Homo sapiens: one gene and its partners. The protein of the gene in region 2 interacts with the protein of the main gene of each other region in a pairwise test. Each region holds a gene or a part of one and is shown on either strand. Other genes may lie near its edges. The genes, in order: TMEM239, LNX1, TRIM68 and CEP72.

Evidence for each region.
Region 1: the proteins of LNX1 (region 2) and TMEM239 interact in binary tests that used the Homo sapiens proteins (3 or more experiments, as listed by UniProt).
Region 3: the proteins of LNX1 (region 2) and TRIM68 interact in binary tests that used the Homo sapiens proteins (3 or more experiments, as listed by UniProt).
Region 4: the proteins of LNX1 (region 2) and CEP72 interact in binary tests that used the Homo sapiens proteins (3 or more experiments, as listed by UniProt).

The regions. Positions count from the first base shown.
Region 1 is NC_000020.11:2,811,448-2,818,592, forward strand, and holds TMEM239 (transmembrane protein 239), read left to right. Parts: upstream 1-4,968; intron 4,969-5,059; coding exon of another isoform or gene 5,060-5,107; coding exon 5,108-5,566; 3' UTR 5,567-6,615; downstream 6,616-7,145. Other genes in the region: uncharacterized protein C20orf141, read left to right, coding at 3,738-3,997, 4,091-4,328.
Region 2 is NC_000004.12:53,458,791-53,462,511, forward strand, and holds the end of LNX1 (E3 ubiquitin-protein ligase LNX), read right to left. Parts: intron 2,804-3,721; coding exon 2,645-2,803; coding exon of another isoform or gene 2,641-2,644; exon of another isoform or gene 2,253-2,640; coding exon 2,117-2,252; 3' UTR 739-2,116; coding exon of another isoform or gene 512-738; 3' UTR 511-511; downstream 1-510. Other genes in the region: FIP1L1 (pre-mRNA 3'-end-processing factor FIP1), read left to right, coding at 512-659.
Region 3 is NC_000011.10:4,598,205-4,605,239, forward strand, and holds the end of TRIM68 (E3 ubiquitin-protein ligase TRIM68), read right to left. Parts: coding exon 6,875-7,035; intron 5,137-6,874; coding exon 5,041-5,136; intron 4,209-5,040; coding exon 3,948-4,208; intron 3,483-3,947; coding exon 3,460-3,482; intron 2,924-3,459; coding exon 2,823-2,923; intron 2,623-2,822; coding exon 2,072-2,622; 3' UTR 468-2,071; downstream 1-467. UniProt on the Homo sapiens protein: Functions as a ubiquitin E3 ligase. Acts as a coactivator of androgen receptor (AR) depending on its ubiquitin ligase activity.
Region 4 is NC_000005.10:636,315-643,349, forward strand, and holds part of CEP72 (centrosomal protein of 72 kDa), read left to right. Parts: intron 1-1,202; coding exon 1,203-1,504; intron 1,505-2,774; coding exon 2,775-2,910; intron 2,911-4,093; coding exon 4,094-4,290; intron 4,291-7,035. UniProt on the Homo sapiens protein: Involved in the recruitment of key centrosomal proteins to the centrosome.

The DNA of each region.
Region 1 (7,145 bases), on a different chromosome or scaffold from region 2:
GTCGGCTCTATGCCTTTCCCAAGCCAAGCACTTTTAGTTCTTTTTGTTATTTCTCCTGTCTTTATCTCTATGCTTAGATTTCTTGCTATTTCCTTTTTTTTCTTTTTTCTTTTCTTTTCTCCTTCTTCTTCTTTTTTTTAAAAGACAATTTCTTGCTCTGCTGTCCAGGCTGGAGTGCAGTGAGCTGAGGCTCACTGCAACCTCTGCCTCCCAGGCTCAAGTGATCCTCGTGCCTCAGCCACTCAAGTAGCTGGGATTACAGGTGCCTGCCACCATGCTCAGTTAATTTTTGTATTTTTAGTAGAGATGGGGTTTTACCATGTTGGCCAGGCTGGTCTTGAACTCCTGGCCTCAAGTGATCTGCCCACCTCAGCCTCCCAAAGTTCTGGGATTACAGGTGTGAGTCACTGTGCATTTCTTGATTTTTCTTTATGTAGTTGTTATCTGTGGATTTCTGCTATGAAATTAAGGCGTTAGTTTTTCTACCACCCTCCCCTCAATACACACATCCAGATACACAAACATACACTCCCTCCTTCCATTTTCAGTAAAGCTCAATTGCTATTTGGAATCAATATTCAGTGCTTTTGTTATGACTATGTAAATATTATGTTTAAATTTGTGCTACCTGGAGTTAGTAATTACTTTGTTTTTATCATTTGCTTAGTTTTCTAGGCATCACTCATTAATTCAATCGCAAAGCTTCCAGTGTAACTGAACATTTACTCAATATAGCCAAACATAGCTAATAATCAGTTGATTTCATTTTCCTCTGGAGACATCGCTCCTAGAGCACATCTTCTGATTTCAGGCTGGGTTGGTTACTTTCTTTACCCGGGGGTATAGTTGACATCCCAGGCCTTTCTCATCGTCCCTTTTCTGTGCTTAATCTCATTTATTGAATGCCATATTGCTCTCTTTCTTAGTTTAATTCTTTGTTTTGCTGAAGCACATCCTCCAGTAGCTTTCTAAGAAAGGGTATATGCAAGGTCAAATTTCTGAGACCTTGTATGATTGAAATGTCATTATTCTACCCTCCCAATTAATAATCATTCAGACCTATACATTTCTATATTAGACATCATTTTGAGGGCATTTATTGTCTTCTAGCTACCAGTATTGGTGTTTAGAAGTGTGATACCATTCTTGCTTCAGATCCGATGTATGTGATGTTTTTATTTGGTGGAAGCTCTTAGGATTGTCTTTTTATCCCTGCTAATGTGAATTTCATTATATGCCTTGATGTTAGCTGCCCTGTTTCATGTATTGGGCTGTGAATTGGTGGAAAGTTATGGTCTAGAGAATCATGTCCTTCAATTCTGAAGAGTCTCTTGATTTTTAAAAATCTTTCCCTTCTGGTCGGGCAGGGTGGCTCACACCTGTAATCCCAGCACTTTGGGAGGCTGAGGCGGTCACATCACCTGAGGTCAGGAGTTTGAGACCAGCCTGGCCGACATGGTGAAACCCTGTCTCTACTAAAAATACAAAAATTAGCTGGGTGTGGTGGTGGGTGCCTGTAATCTCAGTTACTTGGGAGGCTGAAGCAGGAGAATCACTTAAACCCGGGAGGCGGAGGTTGCAGTGAGCCAAGATGGCGCCATTGCACTCCAGCCTGGGCAACAAGAGCGAAACTCTGTCTCAAAAAAAAAAAAAAAAAAAAATAGAAAGAAAGGTTTTCCTCCTCAGAGCACTCCCTCAATAAACCATGTGTACAAGTATCCCCATCTCAGGCTCTACTTTTAGAAATTATGACCCATTGATATAGTCTGAATATTTGTCCAAATCTCAAGTTGAAATCTCAAATCCCAATGTTGGAGGTAGGGCCTGATGGGAGGTGTTTGGGTCATGGGGGTGGATATTTCATGGCTTGGTGCTGTCCTTGAAATAGTGAGTGAGTTCTCTCAAGATCTGGTTGTTTAAGTGTGTGGCAACTCCCCTAACCACCACTCTCTCCCTTGCTCTTCACCCTTTGCCTTCTGCCATGATTGGAAGTTTCCTGAGGTCTCCCCAAAAGCAGATGCTGGTACCCTACTTCCTGTACAGCCTGCAAAACTGCAAGCCAATTAAGCCTCTTTTCTTATAAATTACCCAGTCTCAGGTATTTCTTCATAGCAACGCAAGAATGGCCTAATACACCCACCATCTGGTGCAGTGCCTGGCACATAGGAAGCACTTAAATAAATGATTGTTGAATACAAAATAAACTCTGAGAAAATCACAGACAGAACTCTCCTATACATGCATACAGAGCACCTGGTGCATAGTAAATCTTTAAGGAGCTTTAGACTCTCCGATCCCCCCATGCCCTGCAATATGGAGTAGCCTCATCTTGGTGGACTCATCAGGACATGCTCCCCAGGTCTGTATGTCCAGGAATGCAATTGTGTGGATGCATCCAGGATTGATCAGGCTCAGGGAATTGCCAATCTTAAACCTTAATGTTCCTTTACAAGCACAATTGGAACTTAATGCCAAAAAAAAAAAAATTCTGGGATCTTCTGTTATACCCTATCCCATTACGGACAAATCTACTCGTAAAACCCAGCTGCTGGATAAGCAAGAACAGCCAGACCAAGGGCGATCAGTGCATGGTCATTAGGGCTGGTGACCCTCGTCTCTGGGCAAGGCCTGCTGGAGGTGGATATGCAGCCTGATTCTTGTTCTGTCTCCTCCTCTCCTAGGGGCTGTATGGCCACTGTCTCCCATTTTGCCACCCCTACCAGTTTTCCTTCAAAGTATGATATGTGGGCAAAGATTAAGTTCTCTTAATTATGACACATTTCCGCTCTTGCCTCTCAAGTCACTAAACTGAGATGTGCTGGACCCCTATGGCCACCACCCATTTACAGATGATCAGTGTAATCTGATATACTGATAATCCAAGTGACTAAGCCCTTCATTATATGTTCATTTTCCTTAACTCCATTCTCAGACTGTAACCTTAACCTCTAATAAGGGGGTTACTAGGTCATAGTCCTCTTAAGTTCATGTCCTCTACCTCATTACTGGAACCCCAGTATGCATAACACCCCCTATAAACTGTAGTGCTTAGAATACCTGAACAGCCCCCTCCTCTCTCACCCCCATTTAGCAGGTTATGCGGAAGCCCAGCCCCAGAAGCCTCAGGCAGTCCCCTGGCAGAGCCCATCTCTGCAATCTGGAACTTCAGGCCTGAAAAATCCCCTAGAAGGACCCACAGGGAAGACAGCTGGGGACAGAGATATTGAATGACTTCGCCCTGGACCTGCAGCTCTGCAAACTCACAGGAAGAAGAAAGCAGACCTCGCTCCCTTGGACAGATGCCCAAGTAGTAATGGGGTTAGAATGCCTTCCTGACAACTCAGATCCCCAAGGGAGGGCCCTAGGGCAGAGAATCAGCAAAGGCAAGAGGATGAGTCTTAGTTCTCAGAAATCCCTGACTTCCCAGCTAAGCCCCACCTAGGCCACCAGCTGCTTATGAGGTCAGAGCAGCAGCAGCAGCAGCCCCCTCCCTACCCCACGGCCCCACGTGGTAACAGGTCACAATGCCCCGGGTGCCCACTCCCAGAATGCTGACCAAAGTGGGAGGAGGTGAGGAGGGTTTGCTGGGTGGGTATGGGGGAGGGGGAGACTCTGCAGGAGCCTAATTCCCCACTCTGAGCTCACCCTTCTGTCTGCCCGGGCCCTACCCCTTCCCCTACTCTCACCCTTATAATCCTTTTCAGCACTAGGTCTTCCCGTCACCTCCACCTCTCTCCATGACCCGGCTCTGCTTACCCAGACCCGAAGCACGTGAGGATCCGATCCCAGTTCCTCCAAGGGGCCTGGGTGCTGGGGAGGGGTCAGGTAGTCCAGTGCGTCCACCTGTATCCACCTGGGGCCCTAGCTGGGCCCAGCTCCTGGACAGTGTCCTATGGCTGGGGGCACTAGGACTGACAATCCAGGCAGTCTTTTCCACCACTGGCCCAGCCCTGCTGCTGCTTCTGGTCAGCTTCCTCACCTTTGACCTGCTCCATAGGTAAGTGGGCAGCAGCCTGGCAGGTGGGCATTGTAGGCGGGCGGGCCAGTGGACAACTTCCCTAAGCCCAGTCACCACCCTCTCTCTCCACAGGCCCGCAGGTCACACTCTGCCACAGCGCAAACTTCTCACCAGGGGCCAGAGTCAGGGGGCCGGTGAAGGTCCTGGACAGCAGGAGGCTCTACTCCTGCAAATGGGTACAGTCTCAGGACAACTTAGCCTCCAGGACGCACTGCTGCTGCTGCTCATGGGGCTGGGCCCGCTCCTGAGAGCCTGTGGCATGCCCTTGACCCTGCTTGGCCTGGCTTTCTGCCTCCATCCTTGGGCCTGAGAGCCCCTCCCCACAACTCAGTGTCCTTCAAATATACAATGACCACCCTTCTTCATCAGGCCCCCTTTTCTCCTTCCTGGCTGGGCAGGTGGGATGATACCCCTTTCTTCCCAGCCTGAACCTCACAGTCCTATAATATAGGTATCAGATACCTGGATCTGAGTCTTTGGGCAGCAAGAGAAGGTAGGATACTAGCCAGGGAGCCCAAGGAAGAATGTGGCAGCCACCTCAGAGCCTGTGGATTGGGGGCAGCCACTCTGGCCTCCTCTGTGGCTCTAGAGAATGAAGGTCCAGACAGAAAGACTTGCGAGAGAGCAGTTTGGAAAGGGGTGGATATCAGCCAGCAGGGAAAGCAGGAAAGGGACAGGGATCCAGGGAGGGCTTCCCATGAGAAAGCATGAGAAACTACATCTGCGGGGCTCCGAGGCTCCCCTGCCAGCCTGGAGGGTCCGTGCAGAGGGACTTGGGTGGGCCTCACACCCTACAGTGACTCCTCTCTTGGCTGGACCCCACCCCAGCCCGGGTCACAAAGGGGCTCCTCTGGGGAGGGTGGGGGTAGATGAGAGTGGGGACTTGGATCTGCCTGCCAGGCCGTCCTGGGCGCTGCAGGAAGCAACATGACTTAGGTAACTGCCCAGAGGTAAGTCCCAGTCCCTAATTCTGTAGCCCCACCCCACGCACACTGGTGCCCTCCTGACCCCTGCACCCCCTCTCTGCCCCCCCCCCCCAAGGTCCCAGGCATCTTCAAGACCCTGGCCCTCTCCCCAGGTGCACCAGACATGATGCAGCAGCCGCGAGTGGAGACAGATACCATCGGGGCTGGCGAGGGGCCACAGCAGGCAGTGCCCTGGTCAGCCTGGGTCACGAGGCATGGCTGGGTGCGCTGGTGGGTGAGCCACATGCCCCCGAGCTGGATCCAGTGGTGGAGCACCTCGAACTGGCGGCAACCGCTGCAGCGCCTGCTGTGGGGTCTGGAGGGGATACTCTACCTGCTGCTGGCACTGATGTTGTGCCATGCACTCTTCACCACTGGCTCCCACCTGCTGAGCTCCTTGTGGCCTGTCGTGGCCGCGGTGTGGCGCCACCTGCTACCGGCTCTCCTGCTGCTGGTGCTCAGTGCTCTGCCTGCCCTCCTCTTCACGGCCTCCTTCCTGCTGCTCTTCTCCACACTGCTGAGCCTTGTGGGCCTCCTCACCTCCATGACTCACCCAGGCGACACTCAGGATTTGGATCAATAGAAGGGCAACCCCATCCCACTGCCTGTGTCTGTTGAGCCCTGGCCTAGGGCCTGAGACCCCACGGGGAGAGGGAGGGCAATGGGATCAGGGCTCCCTGCCTTGGCAGGGCCCAGACCCCTAGTCCCTAACAGGTAGACTGGCCTGACCCCGGACTCCTTCCTCAAGTCAATGCTGCAGGTTCCTGGTGTGAGGGGCTGGGGGCTTTGAGAAGAGGGGGCAAGACAGATGGCTTAGCCATTGGTGAAAATTGCTTAGCCAGGGGCAGAGCTTGACCAAGCCACTGATAGCGCCCATATGGATGTGATGATACCCGTGGGGCCCCCTTGGCAACTGACAGCATCTTTTTCTCATAGCCACTCAGCTGTCTCAGCTTCAGACTCACTGAGAACTTCTACCTGGGTACCACTGGCCTTGCCATTCCTCCCACCAATCCCCTCTTTCCACTTCCAGGAGAACCACAGACTCTAGAGAGGGTCCCAGTGACAAAAATCTATCAGGGAGAAGGCTGGCCAGAAGCCCCAGGAGACCTCAACTCACTCGCTCTCCAAACCTTGCAGCCCACGCATCCTCCTCCCTAGACTTCCTACTTCCTGCCTCAGTCTGCATCCCCAAGTCTGAGAAATGGGCCAACTGGGGTCAGACAGCACCTACTCACTCTCTAAGAATCCCAAGGTCTGTTATGGAAAAATGATCAAGAAATCCCATTTCACCCACTTACACAATGTGTGGCCTTGGCCAATTAATTCATTTGAGCCTCAATGTTACGTGGGCCACTTCTGTCATGGGGTTGTTGTGAGTCAAAGACAATATCTATTTGTGAAGCATTTTGTAGAAGCCAAAAACCTGTAAGATGTTGTTTTGAGCTCTAAGAACTTTCTGTAGGCGCATAAGATCTTTTGACCCCAAAGACTGTTGAAGGAACAGGAAGCTTCTCTGGGCTTTCAGATCAACTCTCTGTCCTGGATAGAATTTTGGCCCTAAAATGGTAAACAAGAGGTCGGTTAAGTGTGTACAAGATGTAAAAGGTCATGTGCCATGAAATCTCAAAATGTGCAGATGTTGAACTATTTTGATTATGAAATGCTTGGGCCTGGGGCTGGGTGCCAGATGCTTGCACAGCTGTGTGAGTGGGGACAGCACAGCCCCAGGGTTTCCAAAACTGACCCAGCAAGCCGCTCAGGCACCAGAAGGGCTTTGGAAAGGGCAATCCTTTGATGCCCTGAATGCTGGCCGTTCGTTCACTTGCTGGCCCCTCCAACAAAACATTGAGTGATCGGTAATTACCAAGTAAGGTACATGATAGACAACTTTATCCACACCTGACCCCCACCCAAGCCCTGGCCATCCCCAACTCCTGCCCAGTTCTGATCCCTGCTTTATGTATAACCCTAAAATCCTTGCTCTTGAAGCCCCAGACCCAAGGTCCCCCTCTTTTGTCCCATAAATACTCAGGGCCTTGGGGCTAGCCCCTAGAACCCTGGTTCATTTTTGCCTTAGACTTTTGCAACCCTCCATGCCACGGATTAGATGCCTTCAGCATCAGTGCCAAAACCCAAGGTCCAGTCCTTCCTTTCTGTTT
Region 2 (3,721 bases):
GTTTGCTCTTTAATAAAATAGTGAACCAATAGTATGTGAGAGATTTTGACTTACTACATTGTCGCATTGGAAGAGGGGAAATTTTGGCCTATGAACCAGTCTTGCTTGGTTTCATTAAAGAAAAATTCAGGGCCTTGTCTCAAATTTTTTTAAAAAAGCATTAAACAAAATACCTATTGTTTGCCAAAAATCAACCCTATACAGTATTTCCGGTTTTGAGTTAATGCCTGTTTCTAATTTGTTACTGTATATTATAATATGCATTTCAGAAGCTGTGTATAGGCACTGGGAATCTGAGATAATATCAGTGAAGATGGCCCTATAAAATAAATACAATCCCTGCATAAAAGTCACATAAAACTGATTATTCCTCACATTATATTTATGAGAAAATGCATTAGATTATTTTAAACCCAGTGTTATATTGAGAATTTCCTTAGAGTGATTGGATTTTTGTCACTGATTGTGTATTTAAACAGAACACACCTTTTTTTTTTTTTTTTTTTTCCAGTAATAGTAGACGTCGCCATGAAAGTGAAGAAGGAGATAGTCACAGGAGACACAAACACAAAAAATCTAAAAGAAGCAAAGAAGGAAAAGAAGCGGGCAGTGAGCCTGCCCCTGAACAGGAGAGCACCGAAGCTACACCTGCAGAATAGGCATGGTTTTGGCCTTTTGTGTATATTAGTACCAGAAGTAGATACTATAAATCTTGTTATTTTTCTGGATAATGTTTAAGAAATTTACCTTAAATCTTGTTCTGTTTGTTAGTATGAAAAGTTAACTTTTTTTCCAAAATAAAAGAGTGAATTTTTCATGTTAAGTTAAAAATCTTTGTCTTGTACTATTTCAAAAATAAAAAGACAGCAATGACTTTATATCCAAGAAAGGAATGTGAATGAGTCACTTAACAGGGAATCTAAAGAGCTGTGTTAGCTGTGTACATACACAGATTATCTGAGAAAAGGTCAAGGGTTCCACTTGGGCCACAGTTTTTTTGTTAATCAAACACCACTCTCTTAAGAGGCTGCATCACAAAAGGCAACAAAGGGCCCCTCTAAGGCTTGAGATTAAAACTAGTCTTTATCATTACTGCTGTGACACTCTTGCTTAGTATATTAAGAGACTCATACATTTTTGATATCACAACTTTTTGATGGCTTTTCAATATTCTAAATTTGGGTTCCTGGTGAAACCAAATGGGGTACACTTTCATATCCAAATTAATAAAACCTATAAGGCATCTGGGTGGCCTCTATGAAATAAATTAATTAATTACCCATAGTGTAGTTTCTAGGAGGCATGTGTACACACACTCTTCATTGTGGCACAAATTTAAATCGCCTCATGACCATGTCTGTGAGCCAGGGTCAAGCTGGTTTGGCCTTCTTGATGCATTTTCCAAGGCCCACTGGTGGAGCAGCATGAGTTTTTATACAGTTACTAACGATTGTGGAAAAAAAGAGCTTTAGCCATTTCTTACTAAAAACAAAACAAGTTTATAATTAATTCTCTGAGCGAGCATTTTTAGGGATAAGCCTAGGAGGTATTCATCGGTGATGGTAACAAATAACATGGTATTTGAAAGAATAAATTACTAGGATCTTTTAAATAGTGATAATACAAAAGTAATCTTAATTAGTATCACATACTAAAAGACAACTATAACTTCTGAAAAATATTTATTCTTGTTTGATGAAAGCAACGTTTCTCAGCAATGCATTTTAAAAAATATTTTAGCTGTAAATTAAAAATGGCCATAATGTACCCTTGGCAGACTTCAGCATATACCAAATTTTAAATTTAAATCAGCTTGAATTCAGTGGGGTATACAAATCATTTTAGTTGTTTTAGGGCTTTTTATTGAATAGAAAAAATATAAACAATGTTGTAGAGTAATGAGAAATCCTCCACACTGAAAAAAAACTAGTAGTTTTAATTTTTTTGGAATCATATTTTCTGAGGTGTAACTGGCTTTCATTAGATGATCATACTTTTCCTGACATTTTTACAATGTATTCTTTCTTTAAATATAAAAACTGACAAGATAAATATAGTGTTTCAACTTCTTAGCCTATTTGTGATTTTTCTGTTTTCCTCTGACCCATCATTGATTCTATAAAAAAGTGCCAGGCCAAGAAACAATAGTTAGAGTAATTCTTCCTTTAAGTTCTTTCAGCAGTCTTGCCAAGCAAGCATGTATCATTCCTGATGTACTTCTACCATTGACAGCAAGAAGAATATCACCACATCTAAAAAAAAAAACAAAACAAGATATGATTAGTATTTTAATTCGTTGCTGAAGTTAATGCAAGTTTATCTTAGTGGTGCTAGATTTTGCTACATCTGACCATTTTAATTATGTTAACTTCTAATTGAGATATTTCTTGCCTCTTATTTACATTCTCCAAACTCACTATCCATTCAGCTTGTGTTAGAAGGAATGCTAAAAGTATGGGGAGTTGTAGTATGGGACCAAGAATATGTGTAATTATTTTGGATTTCTCAGAAGTTGAATGCTACGTACATACTTTTAATCCCCACAAAGTATAATAAATACATGCCTTATCTCAAATGGGGCCAAGCTTTGGCATTTATGAAACAACATTTAATACAAGTATTTTTGATTAGTCATTATTATTACCTAATTCTTCCATCATTGTATGCTGGTGTTCCTTCAACAATGGATTTGATGAAAAAAGGTTTGTTTCCATTGTATTCTTCATAACCTCCTACAATGCAGAAGCCCAGACTTCCAGCTGTGTTTCTTCGTAATACAATATCTTTACAGTTATACAAGCACCTGAAATAGAATGTAATCAGTGTACATGCATATTTAAGTTTCACAGTTAAGGGAATACTTACTGTGACTCATCCTCCATTCCTTTTGTTGGCATTTTTAATGGCTAAGTACCACTGCATAGGTCCCACTCAAAATTGTATCATACCTTGGTGACCTTTGTGCTGTTAGCTGGCTTTTTGTAATTGAACCTGTTTTCCATAATTTTGAATATCCTTAAAAAACTGACAGCCCTATTGTGTTCTGTTACACATCTACTGGGAATGATAATCATATTTTTAACTTAAGACAATGCTTGAATATGTATTAGCAAAAAGTTGGATAAACCTAAATCCTTATTGGTGAACAAACACACTTATGGATGTCATATTTTTATTTACTTGATATAATTTTAATGAGGGCAAAAATCCTTTGAATAATCTCAATGAAAGCAGTTTAAGCCTAATCCTAATAAATGAATTCGTATACTTTTTTTGACCTTGGAAAAATACCACTTTACACCCAGTGCTACGTTTGATAAGTCATAGAGAAGCATGCACGCATAAAGTGAATGGAAACAGAAACGTTTAAAGATTATAAGAACAATTCAAATAGGAGGAAAAACAAACTGCAGGAAACTGGATAGGAAGTTATAAAAGGAATGGGAGAAGGAAAGGCCCAGCTCTTCTGTAAATTAGAATCCTCAACTAAAATAGCAAATGAGATTGAAGAAATTTTTATTCAGTGGCCCCCAATGGATCAGTGTTCATATAGGTACAGGCCAAGTGTTAACTATGTTATAATTGCCATAGAAGTGTGTGTCAGGAGCTGAATTTTACTCCAGGATGACGTTGTTGACCACATTTGTAGCTGTAGTCCGGGAATTGGTTTGAAAGGAAATTGGCATTTTCATGTTGCCAAAAATCAGATATGGCTATTTTG
Region 3 (7,035 bases), on a different chromosome or scaffold from region 2:
GACAATCTGTAATAATGTGGATTGTTTAACCTTACGAGTCTTCTAACAAGTAATCAGAGTACCCAAACAGGCTTATAAATGTAAAAAACAATCAAACCAACCAAAAAGAGTACATTACAAATGAGGCCATTTCATTCCTTCCTTCATTCTAAGTTCGAATGAATTTATCAGCTAACAATCCTCCGTTTCTAGGAACCTTCCAAGATTTGTCTTAATAGCCAAAGAACAACATTGATTTTCCCTTAACCCTTTTGTCCCAATTGTCCACAGACAGAACTGAAGTCCTTCCTAGGGACCTACTTCTCAGTTACCCCCAGGGAATCCCCTGACAAAGATGCTCCTCTAATTGAGGCAGGCTCAACCCTTGGCCAGCACCAGGGTCTGTGCCTCACTAGCTCATTCCCCTCCAGGCAGCTGATGGAAACTTCTCCCCTTCTACTACTGATTCTCAAGAAGCAGTCTGGAAGCATGGTGGACAGAATGCGTTTATTTCTCCAGTTTGGCCTATTTTAACTCCTACATACATGAACAGCCAATACAATTAAAGTAGAAACACAATTTTTAATATTCCTTATCACAGCCATTTGAAGCTCCTTTCTGCCCAAAAGGTCTAGACTGCCAGCAGAGGCCCTGAGACAAAGGCACTGCTATAAGATGCAGACTGTATCATGGCACAGTGGGAAAGTCACCATGTGCAAAATCCACGGCTTGCCTGCCTCTATGCCTCAGACAGGAACAAATCATGGGATGGATCTGGGATCTATACAACAGCTCCATGAGGCAGGACAATCATATGAGGTTTTATGCTGAATTACACCCATTTTCCCAATGAGGACACATAAAACCTCCCAAACATGTGAGAAGTTTCAGACCCAAATATAATAAGTGATGTATAGGCATGTGACCTGCGAAGTGAGTTTGTCAACCTTGTTTCACTTGAGTGTGAAAAATGCTTTATAATTTTGATAATCTTACCTTCAGCAGCTTTGTAAGAAATAACTTGCTCCAGGGGCCGGGCGCAGTGGCTCATGCCTCTAATCCCAGCACTGTGGGAGGCTGAGGAGGGCGGATCATGAGGTCAGGAGATCGAGACCATCCTAGCTAACATGGTGAAACTCCGTCTCTACTAAAAATACAAAAAAATGAGCCAGGCGTCGTGGTGGGCGCCTGTAGTCCCAGCTACTCGGGAAGCTGAGGCAGGAGAATGGCGTGAACCCAGGAGGCAGAGCCTGCAGTGAGCCGAGATCGTGCCACTGCACTCCAGCCTGGGCAACAGAGTGAGACTCCGTGTCAAAAAAAAAGAAATAACTTGCTCCCTTAAGGCCATTTCAGTTTCCTCATTCATAAAGTGAAAATACAAACTAAAGCTCGCAGGTTTTCTGATCCTGCCACTTAGAGAAAAAAGGCAAGACTAGGACACTGGTCTCCTGGAGTCCAAGGGACAGTGATTTGCCCAGCTTGTGCTCAGAGAGGGAACGGCAGTGGGGTGGCTTGGGCAGGTCTGTGTCCCCCTGCTGCACTGAATTTCTCTTGCCAGGAGGTCAGAAGGTGAGAGTCACATAAAGGTTGCTTAGTTATAGCAAACCTCAGGGGAAGCATCCTCTGACTGGCCTCAGCACAACAACCAGCTCTGGGTATGCGCAGCATTTTTTTGGCCTATTGGGAAAGCCCATCTAATGGTGTCCTGAAGACTGTATCTACTTCATCATCCTCACTGACTGAACTGTGACACCGGACGGGAATCAGGGAAGAGGGTGGTTGGCTACTACATGGACAAAGTCCTGATCCTTACCCCAACGAGTCACCTTAGAACTGCTCTGATCCTCACCATCAGCCCTGTCGTGCTTCCCTCATGGGATGCAATGCTCATTTGACTGGGCCTCTGCTTTTTAAAATAAGTGGTTTCATGACAGACTTCAGCCTGGTAGCAAAGACCAAAGGATCAGACAGAGGAATCCTTGGATACTGGGCTCAGCTCAGTTTCAGGGGATACCTGTCAGTGGCTCGGTCCTCCAAGCCCCATGGGGGCCAGGCCCAATTCCAAGCCTCTCTGGTTAGGGTGGTAGCTTTCTTAGTCCTCCCCATCCAGGGAGCAGATGGCCAGAGGAGCAGTGTTGTTGGTTCCAATGCTGTAGCAAGGACTAAAATAGGGCAGGAGGCGCCCAGGGAAGGGATAGCGGGGGAAAGTGAAGATGTGGGAGCCACAGTCAGTCACATTGTAGAAAGAAATGTCATGGGCCTCATAATCCACGAAGATTCCCACCCGGCGAGGAGGGACCGGCAAGGACAGGATTGGGTACTCATCGGTGCCTGCTCGGTACTCATTTCCCTTCCTCAGCCTTATCACCCAGAATCCATAGTGGGGGGATAAGTAGACCACCTCCTTCCGGTCTACATTTTGCTTACATACTCCCAGGCCCCACTCAGACCTGTCTCCCACCTCCACCTCCCAGTAGTGCCGGCCTGAGGAGATGCACTGGCTTCCCAGGACGATATTATAGCGGTAAAATCTCTCAGGATTGTCTGGCAGTTTCTGGTTGGTGTCTCCATAGTGCACACGTTTTCTGTCCTCAGACACGATGAGACGGGAGTAAGCAGTATCTGGATCCAAGCGCACATCAGCTAGAAGAAAAGGTCCTGGTTGGTAACAGTGATATAGGGCCAGGGGACATGGGTGAGAGCCCTCTGATAAATTCAGCCACAGATTTCTCAATGATGAAGGGGTGAGGCTGGATGGAGCACCCAGAGGGCACTGAACCATTTTCTATCTCTGGGAGGGGTCCCTCCCACTGTCCACTACAGTCTCCCCCAGGATCCATTACCTGCATAAGTCTTCAGGATCTCTCTTAGCCCCAGCACACGGCAATCTGTCTTCAACTCCAGGGAGATTGGTTCTGGCTGCTGCAAGCTCCAAGATTTGCTCCTGGTAGAGGAGGGTGAACCTCAGGGCCAGGAGTCCCGGCTTTGTCACATGGGCCTTATCTTAGTACAGGGAAGAGGGGCTTGGCCAGGGACATAGTGAACCCCAGCAAAGCAGAGACATGATGGTTACGGTTATTTGGCTGAGCCTCAAGCTGTTTGTGTGCAGAGGTGAGAACACCTGCATGCCCATGCTATGGGAAGGGTTGGATGTATATTTGATTCTGGGAGAGGAAGAAGTGCACACATTTTCTGTCGGACATGAAGGAGTCATGGGCAGTCTTTTATCCTCTTTGAGCAATCTACTTGAAACCACATATTTTACAGCTTCACTTGATATACATTTGATCAAGTACAAAGAAGAAAAAGGAAAGATCAACAAAGATTCCTTAGCCATTACCATGTAAGTGGGACGAGACTGTGGACCAGCACCTGCTTTTCTGTGTGCACCGAGTCTGTGCTCCGTCCCTACTTCTGGCTCTAGTTAGGCCTCACTATCCCCTACAGGGCTGCTTAGAGGCTCCAAGGGTGAGAACATACCTGTTTAACACTTCCTGAATATCCTGGAAGGAGAAAAAAAAATGCAGCATCTGAGTAAGTGCTATTCCTCAGAGGGAACAGACATCGAACTGGCAGGGAGTTTCTCTAGGGGAAGGGAGACAGATACCAAGAATGGAGAGATGCCATGCAGAGGTAAGGAGAAGCCTATGGAAGGATGGAAGAGCAGGCTGAGCTTTGGCTGAACTGGCCAATTTCAGGCTCCATCTCAAGACTCTCGGGCTAGAGGAGAGGGCCTGGAATGACGCCAGAGCTGCCTGAGCACTGCCCCACCTATGATGCTACAACAGACCAGGTCATCCACCAGCCAGGGATAGGGAAACAGCAGGTATTAGCTGGGGAAACACAGGATCCATGACCAGCTGGCAGAGGGCTGGCAGTCCCTACTGAAGGGTAACTGATGCTCTCTCCTGGAGTCTCAGTCTATCTTCAGCTGTCACTCAGGGTTACCAGGAAAACCTACTACTCACCTGCAACATCCAGCGGACAGGCCTCTGCGACCTCTCTTTCAACTCTGCAATCATCCTCCACAGGACCTGGCTCTGCTGGATGAGCTCGCTATGGTTCAACTCCAGTTTCTGCATGGTCTCCGCTGCCTCCCGCTGTAGGCTGGCCAGAGCTGCTGCTACCTCTGCCCCCAGCTGCCGATGTGGTGGCTGCTTTTTCTCTAGTAATCGCTGGTATTTTTCAAACTCCCATACAATACTCTGTTTTCGGGTTTCCACCTGTATCTGTGGAGCCAAGATGGAAATCAGCACTGATACTTTCAGTCACCCAGTATCGAGCATACTGACATATGCATACACACATACTCTGCAATGGTACCAACCACGTGACAGGCTATGCAGGGGCAAAGATAAAGGATACTATTTTTCCTAGCTTCCTGTTCTCCCAGCTCCACCACATGCTTCTAGGTCTCTATTGTCACTCTTATTGACTCCAGTAGGGTCCAGGATATTATCTTAATACTACATGCTCTAGACTATTTTCCATTTTCAGAATAATGACAAGATGTGTTACATTTAAGTCTCTAAGGCAGTGTAACTTAACTACACTGTTAGGTGGTTCATTTTCATGTTGATATTATATCTGTTCAACATGCTGTTTTAGATTGGTTCAGTGTTACTTTCTGTTGATCAAAAGTTCTAGTAGTTTGATACTTACTGGCCTCAAATTTATTTCAGAGGTGATTTTACAATATTTTAATAACCAGACTCTTAGCAAATATTCTCTAACTTGGGAAAATGAAAGAGAAACTCTGCTTTACAAGCATGATATAAGCCATGCCACTGTGAGCTGACACACGTGAGCATGTGCTTTTCCTTTCTCATATAGGAGGATACAAGACCAGAGGTTATCCCTACATCCCCATGGAGAAACTGGAATTAAGAGGTGACGTGGCCTACCTAAGGCCTGGGACAGAGAAAGCAGGGATTAGAACCCTAGGCTCTGTGATTTCAAGCCTCACATTCTGCCTCACAGTGATGAGAATGCTACCCTAGGCCAGCTCCAGGACCACACAGGACGACTGACACAAACTCCTTTCCCCACGAGGCAACCTGCCTTCCAGGTGGCAGTTCGTTTCCTTTCACCAACTTCAAGCTTCCAGGCCTCTTCTTGCTCTTTCTTCAGATGTTCGAGGGCCTCATGAAGTTCCCACTGCAAGAGACAAAACCCTCATGAGGCCACCTCCGGCAGCCTAGGCTTCCTAGCACTGGGAGGCTATGGGAGAACCAGAGTCCTTCAGGCAACCGGCCACAGTGAAGGCTGTGGGGAAAGGGAATGCCACAGAGGAAGCAGACTCTGCCCAGATGACATCCGAGGTAGCTCTCTGGGCTGAGAATCATTTCAACTCCCACAGTCTCTAAATGTCTGTAAACTGGAAGAAAAGGTCCATTTACAACCTCTCCACAAAAGTACCTTGGACTTTCCTTTCCATGCCAATTTTTATCCTTATCTTATTTATTTTTATCTTACTGTCTGCCAGAACCTTGTTACTCCAAATGTGGTTCAAGTGGATCAGCAGCATCCACATCACCTAGGAGCTTGTTAGAAATGCAGAATCTTGGCCTTACTTTAGACCTACCAAATGAGAATCTCAATTTTAGATGGATCTCCCAGGTGGTTCATATGCTTATTAAGGGTAAGAAGCACTTTCCTAGAATAGTAATGCAAGGGATTTCTACTGAAAAGCATAAACTGTGCAGAAACACCATTTAATTCTGCTATTTTAACAAAATAGCAACTATTTTGTTAAAATATATCAAGTGTCAGGTATATTTTCAGCTCTAAATATGCATGTGATACTTACAATCCTCTGAGGCTGGTATTAACCTTATTTTATAGACAAGAAAACTGAGGCTTAGAGGGTGACCTACCCAAAGTCATTCAGGTAATAAATGGTTGGGCTGGGATTTCATCCAGCCCTTTACCCCTATGTTATACTAGCTCCCTTTTCTAATAGTCTCAAAAACAGAATGAGTTAGTAAATACTTTTCATATTTTAGAAATCCCTCCCATATAGGAAAAAAGCTAATTCAGGGGATTTGTCTTACACTCTCACCTTCCTATTTCAACTCCAAAAAAGAGAGTTGAGACCAATGCTGGATCACTGGATCACAGAATCACTGAGATAATGGTTCCGATAAAGATGTCATTATGGGCATCTGATGAAAGAGTAAAGAGAAGCCCAGAAGCTGGAAGTTGATGAGGTTAGCTACAAAAAAGGAGTCCCAGGTTTGTCAGAGATGACTTGTCAAACAAACAAACTTGGGAGAGGAGAAAGTGCAAGAAGACTTGAGTCACAGCCTCTGATCTTCCTTTCACTAACTGGACCTGAAGTCAGAAAGGACCTGAGAAGACTATATCAGATGACCTCTCTCAATCTTGTGACTCACCCATAGTTCTTTCCACCTCTAAAATAAATTGCCATGTTTTCAACTTTCTAAGCCTCACTTTTGTCTATAAAATGAAGGAGGGAAGTGATCCATTCAATGCCAAATGACTACTTGCAGCACTGCTAGGAGGAGTTTGCAGGTCAGGTGTAGCCTTGACCATCTATATAAGAGCCTCATGCCTAAACTCATCCAAGGCATCCAGAATCTCAGTTAAAACCCAAACTGTTTTCCTTCACATTCTCATTACTGAAATCAGCCTTGGGTTAGGAATTGAGCCCTGTTAGGATGTAGGTGTAGAGGAAGTGGGAGAGCAGGAAATCAAGGAAGGTCATGAATACAAGGAAAGGTATAGCTCTCTGTATCAGATTCCAGGGATCTCTGGGTGTCAGGAACCAAAGGAGTTAGCTCTCAGTCTGTGGTGCTGGTGGTCAAGCCCTTGATCTAGAAACAGCCAACTTGGGGCCGGGGTTAGACTGGAGTGGCCAGCTTCCATCTCTCACCTTGTACTCCCAGGCAACATCCTCCATTGGCACAACACTGTGGGCCTCATGCTCTGGGGACTGGCTGCAGGCCTCACACATTATCAAGACATCCTCTTTGCAGAACATCTTCAGCTTTTCCCCATGGCGCTCACACAGGTCACCCTTCAGCCCCATTCCTG
Region 4 (7,035 bases), on a different chromosome or scaffold from region 2:
GTAAATAAGTGCTTTTTCTCTGCACGTGTGTGTGTGCACACCCTCCCTCACCCTCTCACTAATGCACACACACTTTTAAGTGTATGGGCCCAGGTTATGGCAATAGCTACATTTTGAAAATCAAAGGCGAGAAAAGTTAACCAAGAGTGTCACGTGATACCATGTGATGGCCACCTATGTGGCATAAGTATCAGAAAACCTCCTGCCGTGAGCAGGCCAGACACGGTGGCTCACGCCTATAATCCCAATATTTTGGGAGGCCGAGGCAGGCGGATCATTTGAGGTCAGGAGTTTAAGACCAGCCTGGCCAACATGGTGAAACCAGGTCTCTACTAAATATACAAAAATATCTGGGCATGGTGGCGGGCACCTATAGTCCCAGCTACTCAGGAGGCTGAGGCATGAGAATCGCTTGAACCTGGGAGGTGGAGGTTGCAATGAGCCTAGATGGCATCACTACACTCCAGCCTGGGCAATAGAGCAAGACTCCAACTCAAAAAAAAAAAAAAAAAAGAAAAAGAGAAACCTTGTCTCGCGTGACCCTGGCGCCTCCTGGAAGCTTGCTCATGCCCAACTGGTGAGAGGCAGGGGACCTAGCCAGGTTGTCTGTCAGCCGCTGCAGGATGTGATGGGTCATCTTGAGTTGAGCAGGCTGTGGTGGAGGCCAAGGCTGTGCCCGTTTTGTGCCTTCTCCTGCCTTCATTGTCCTTCCACAGACAAGTTTGCCTTCCCCCGGGTCTTGTGTGTCCTGGGGGCTTAGTGGTCGGTACAGTGCACGGGACCCACCACTTTACGGACCATCAGAGTCTGTCACTTCACCTGTCTTCAGAGATGGGCGTGTGCTTAGACGTTGTTTGGAACGCGTTGTTGAAGCGTACTGCACGTCGGTCATCACGGGGTGAACACGCGAAGCTGGGCGGTCCGTGTCTGCTTCATCCAGACTCCCCCAGAGTTTGCGTGTTAGCACGTGTGCCCCAGTATGCCCCTTTCTTCCCTCGGCACCCTCCCTCTGCATGTGCCTTTGTGCAGGTGTATGGATGTATGTATGCACGTGGATAGGTGTGCGTGTACATATGTAAGTGTGCGTGTGTGTCCATGTGTGTATATACATGGGCACACACATGCCTTTTAAAAGTTACAGTGCTGAACACTGCACCCAGAGAATTTGGCCTGACGTGCGCCCCATCCTCTCTATATCTCAGACTCCATGGATACCGAGGACTCGGCCTCTTCTCAGAAGTTGGATTTGTCAGGAGAAATGGTGCCTGGTCCCCTGCCAGCCCCCGGAAAGTGCAGGAAGCGAAGAATGCCTGTTGGAAGATTCCAGACGTTTTCGGACCAGGAGGGTTTGGGCTGCCCGGAGAGAACTCATGGGTCCTCCGTGCCCAAGGAGAGCCTGAGCAGACAGGACAGCTCAGAAAGCAGGAACGGGAGGACCTTGTCTCAGCCTGAGGCCTCGGAGACTGAGGAGCAGAGGTCTCGGGGTGTGACCGACACCAGAGAGGTGAGAGAAGGGCTGGGGAGCAGCAGGCCCACGGCACTGCCTCCCTAATGTGGGGCTGTTACGGCTTTGGCGGGGCCGTGATTACGCCTGCGGCACTGACTGTGTCCCTCCCTGATGCAGGGCTGTTACGGCGGTGCCGTGATTACGCCTACGGCACTGACCGTGTCCCTCCCTGATGCGGGGCTGTTACGGCTTTGGCGGTGCCGTGATTACGCCTACGGCACTGACCGTGTCCCAGGATAAAGGGAATCATCACACTTAGGGTTCCAGGGTGCTTGCTGCTGCGTTTTGTTGGACGTGTGCCTCTGTGCCACACGCTGTCCTGCGCTGCTGTTCTGAGTGGAAGCCCCGTGGTGGAGAGAGGGGACTCTGCCTTACGGTGCACAGGGCATTTGTCTCCAAAGCTGGAATCGGGCATCTTGGCCGGCTGAGCCATTGATGACCCTTTCGTGAGGGGAGGATCCTGGAGGTCGCTGTGATGAGAGACCGAGTCACTCCACCCTCAGGGTGACCTAGAGGTCAGGGGGACAACTGGCGCAGGCCCAGTCAGAGGCGTTGAGACACACCTGCTGTAGACATGAGTGCAGACCACCCAGAAGGGAACAGGCAGGGGCTGTTCACTTGGTACTTGCCACAACGAGGGCTTCAGACTCCCATGCAGGCAGAGGAGCTTGAAGGTGCGGAACTGTGGGACAGGAAGGGAGGCATGGCCGGAGCTAGAGGCAGCTCCGTAGCAGCATGGGGTGGGGGGGGGTCCCAGAGCTGGGTGGGGCGTGTTTGACGTCCCCGGCAGGTCCTGAGCTGGAAGGAGGCAGAGATGGGGGAGGTGGGCGGTCTGTTTCAGGGTTATTGTTTGACTCCGGGCCATTGCTGGGGACAGCGCCTGGCACCCTCTACCAGCCTGACTGTGGGTGCAGGCTGCTTCCTGGGCAGCTCCTTTTGAACACAGGCTCTGACTGCGGCCTGGATGTGTCTTCCGCTTCCCTGTCTGGGTTGAGGGGAGGAGTCTGGGGCCTGCTTGAGTTGGGAATGTGTGGGCCCCGTCCTGTCCTGTCATCGAGACCTCACTCATCCAGGACCGGTGCACCTGGCTAAGCCTCACTGGGCAGGCACTGCTGAGCCGCCCTCCACCTGGCTCAGGGCTGGGGCCTCAGGGCACCTGTCCTCCCCTTCGTGGTGCGAGGGCATCCCAGGGTGCGCTTGGGCACCTGCTGGCATTCAGGACCTCAGTTACTGACTCGCTGGCCTCATGCTGTTGTTTCCATCACAGCCGTCTCCCGGGTCACACTCGGCTCTACCCGGGAAGAAGACGGCCCTGCAGGCGGCGCTCCTGGAGACGCTCTTGGACCTGGTGGACAGGAGCTGGGGCGGCTGCAGGTCCCTGCACAGCAACGAGGCATTCCTTGGTGAGTCAGGGCGGCCACTGCTCTTGCCCTGTAGGCAGCGTCTGTGTGGGTTCCGGGGTCCTCTGCGTGTGGTGACCTAGGAGTCATCTCAGCCCCAGGTCTCCTATGTCCCCTCCCACGAGCGTGTGGTGGTCCCGCGCCTGGGCCCTCCCTGGCAGTCTTTGCATCTCACAGTGTCCAGGGCTCTCGGGAGACACCACATGGGCCTGGGCCTGTGGGTCCCCCGCTGTGCTCTGGGGTGTTGGGGGGCCTGTCACCTCATTTTGCTCAAAATGCTGTCCAAAGGGGCTTGGTTCTGATGGCTGTGATCACATGGGGATTTGGAGTTTGGAAGCTGCTCAGCATCTTCTCCCCCGACCCAGACGTGTAGCCTGTGCTGGGCCTGGATTGCAGAGCTTTTGGTTGGTGTGGGACCCAGGAGGGTGGTCCCTCCCCAGAGAGGACTTGGGTCTGTTGGATTCTACCAGGCAACCCGTACATGAGCACACTGGGGCCTCCCTCATCCAGGATCACACTGGGAGACCAGGAGATGCCGCGTCCCCAGGGGCACCTTCTCTTTGTCCTGCATCCTGGGGTGTGGCTGTGTGTGTCCCTCAGGAGCCTAGCCAGTGTGCTTCTCCCCGCAGACCCTGGGCACGGCTCTGAGCTGTCTGACTGCGCCTTGCAGTGTTATAGCCCCTCAGCTCCTAGAATGAGGACGCCCTGCAGTCGCAGCCCACCTGGACCCCAGCCCCATAAACCTCCCCTCTCCCTAGGCTGGTGTCCTGTGGGAGCCTCCTGAGCTTGCCATCGTCGGTGGCGGGGGGACTGTCCCAGGCCCAGGCCACTGTCCCAGTGTGGAGTTGCCAGCTGTCGTCTGCATGGTGGTTTCCACACAGGGCAGTCGGTGCTTGTGGAAGGCGCAGCGAGTTGTGGCGGCGCCACTGAAACCTTGAGACGTGGCGGCCCCTGGTTGCCCCTTTTCTTGGAGGTCACCTCTTCTCTTTCTTCAGTTCCCACCCTGCCCGTGTGTGGACGCACAGAGCCTGAGGTGGTTTTGTGGCGCCAACACCCCTTTCCCCTCTCCCTACCTGTCGTCTTTTTGAGGCATCGTCTGTGTGATTCAAAACATACTGAGCCGATTTTGTTTACATTTCATCCTTTAAGCCTAAGTGCTAATGTAATATTTGGTTTTCACTCCTAGCTCAGGCAAGACACATCTTGTCATCTGTTGAAGAATTCACAGCAGCTCAGGACAGCTCTGCGATGGTGGGTGAAGATGTCGGCTCCCTGGCTCTGGAGAGTAAGTCCCTGCAAAGCCGCCTTGCTGAGCAGCAGCAGCAGCACGCCCGGGAGATGAGCGAGGTGACGGCGGAGCTGCACCACACACACAAGGAGCTGGTGAGCCCGCCCTGGCGCTGTGTCTGTGTCCATGTGACTGGGGGAAACATGGCTCTGACTTCCAGGAACGAGGGCAGCTCCTTGATGCCACACTGTCCCAACTGCCATCTCTGCAGCCCCATGTCTCCACTCCCTGCCCGGGACCCGGCCACCCCCGGAACGCGGCCTGCCCTGTCTCACAACAGGCCTGGAGCACTTTGGAGACAGCAGTGGCGCTGGCCACCTTCTCTCCCCGGGCCCAAGGGACCCTCCACCACTGGGCAGTGCCGGGTGCTGCAGGAGCCAGGCCTGGACGTGACTTTGTCTTGCTGACCCATCTCTCAGGGCCTCGAACTGGGGAAAACCGAGGCCACTCTCCTTTTATGAAGGAGATGACGGCCAGTGTCCCATGGTGAGCTGGGGCTACAGGGCAAGTTACCCCAAAACCAGCAGCTGAAAACCTGCATTTATCACCTTGGATTTCTGTGTATTGGGCCTCAGGCTCAGCTCAGCCAGGCTCCCTCCTTCCGTCTCAGCCGTGGGCCGGGGCCGCCGTCTCATCTGAGGCCTCATGGGGGCTCTGTCTCAGCCGTGGGCTGGGGCCACCGTCTCATCTGAGGCCTCACGGGACAGGATCCTCCCAGGCTCCCTCCACGCTGCAAGGGCCTCCCCACGGGCTGCTGGCATCCTTAGCACAGGGAGCTGGTGGTCAGAGAGCCACACCCAGGCAGAAGCCGCCCTCCGGGAGTCCTGGTGTGAGGGCAGAGCCACGTGAGGATGTGCACATCCAGAGGGGCCTTGTCAGCATCTTTAAATTGCGAGTGAAGTCGGCCCGGGACGGCTTCGAAAACTGCCTCTGAACTTGTCTGACAAGTACATACTGTCCGTTTCATGGGAACCAACATCTCAGAGATCCCACACAACGCTTCCTCTTTAGAGAAGAAAAACACAGCAAAACAACACAGGCAGCCTCTGTTTAAACGCACGTGGCCCCCCCACCCCGCCTGGAAGCCTCTGCACGTGGCCTTCATCTGGAAGCCTCTGTATTTAAACACATGTGGGCCTCCTCCATCTGGAAGCCTCTGTATTTAAACACACGTGGGTCCCCATCCCCCGTCCAGAAGTCTCTGCATTTAAACACACATGGCCCCCCATCCCCCATCCAGAAGCCTGTGCATTTAAGCACACGTGGTCCCCCGTCTAGAAGCCTGTGCATTTAAGCACACGTGGTCCCCGGTCCAGAAGCCTCTGCATTTAAGCACACGTGGTCCCCCGTCCAGAAGCCTGTGCATTTAAACACACGTGGTCCCCCGTCCAGAAGCCTGTGCATTTAAACACACGTGGTCCCCCGTCCAGAAGCCTCTGCATTTGAACACACGTGGTCCCCCGTCTAGAAGCCTGTGCATTTAAGCACACGTGGTCCCCCGTCTAGAAGCCTGTGCATTTAAACACACGTGGTCCCCCGTCTAGAAGCCTCTGCATTTAAGCACACGTGGTCCCCCGTCCAGAAGCCTGTGCATTTAAACACACGTGGTCCCCCGTCCAGAAGCCTCTGCATTTGAACACACGTGGTCCCCCGTCTAGAAGCCTCTGCATTTAAACACACGTGGTCCCCCATCTAGAAGCCTCTGCATTTAAGCACACGTGGTCCCCCGTCCAGAAGCCTCTGCTTTTAAACCAACGTGGCCCCTCCTCTGGAAGCCTCTGTATTTAAACACACATGGCCCCTCATCTGGTGGAAGCCTCTGGATTTAAGCACACATGGCCCCTTCTCTGGAAGCCTCTATATTTAAACACGTGTGGCCCCCCGTCTGGAAGCCTTTATACTGAAACACACGTGACCGGCTGTCTGGAAAGTGAGCTGGGCGCCGTCACTGATGATGTCTTTTCTGTGGGACACAGTCAGGCACACCCCTTGCCCTTCTGAGCCTGGGACGAGACAGAGCTGACAGGCGGAGCCCAAAGGTGTGCCGAGCACCAGTGCTGCCAGGGGTGAGAGTCACATGCAGCTGTGGCTGCCGTGGACGCCTGCTTTTTTGCCCTCTGCAGTTTGCCTAACCCCTGCAGTTTGCAGGCAGCCCTGGGCCTCTGGACAGAGCAGCCCTGGTTCCCTGTCAGGGTGAGTGATCCAGAAGAATCTGGCAGCCCGAGCCCCGCGGGTAAGGAGCAGTCAGCACCGTCAGGAACCCCGCGGAGGGAGCAGCCGTGCAGGCTGGTGGGCACTGCTTTCCAGGGAGGCCCACATCTGTCACTCCAGAAGCACCCAAGTTTACTCTGCCACGTGAGGACGCTCATCCCTCGGTCACATGAACCTAGACCTTGCTTCCTTTGGAAGCTGCAGTCGGGTGTCCTGAGGCAAGGTGGCCCCACTTCCAGCTGCTGTGCCTGGCACGGCCTCTGAGGCAGATGGGCTGCGCCCAGCTTGGGTGCAGTCGGTCCTCTGTTCCCTGCACCTGTCGTGGCCTAGACTCCAAAAAATAAAAAATTAGGTGTGGTGGCACACTCCTGTCATCCCAGCTATTTTGGGAGGTAGAGGCAGGAGGCTCAGGAGTTGGGGGCTGCAGTGAGCTGTGATTGCTCCACTGCCCTCTAGTTTGTGCGACAGAGGGAGACTTTGCCTCAAAGAAACAAATGAAAAAGAGCTGGGAGCTCACAGCCCTGCCTTAAGAGCTCACCGCATCCTTGGGAGGCAAAACCATGAGACGTGGCACTGCCAGGAGCTTTCTGGACGACCCAAAGCCCCGCGCGGAGGGCAGGTCATGCTGG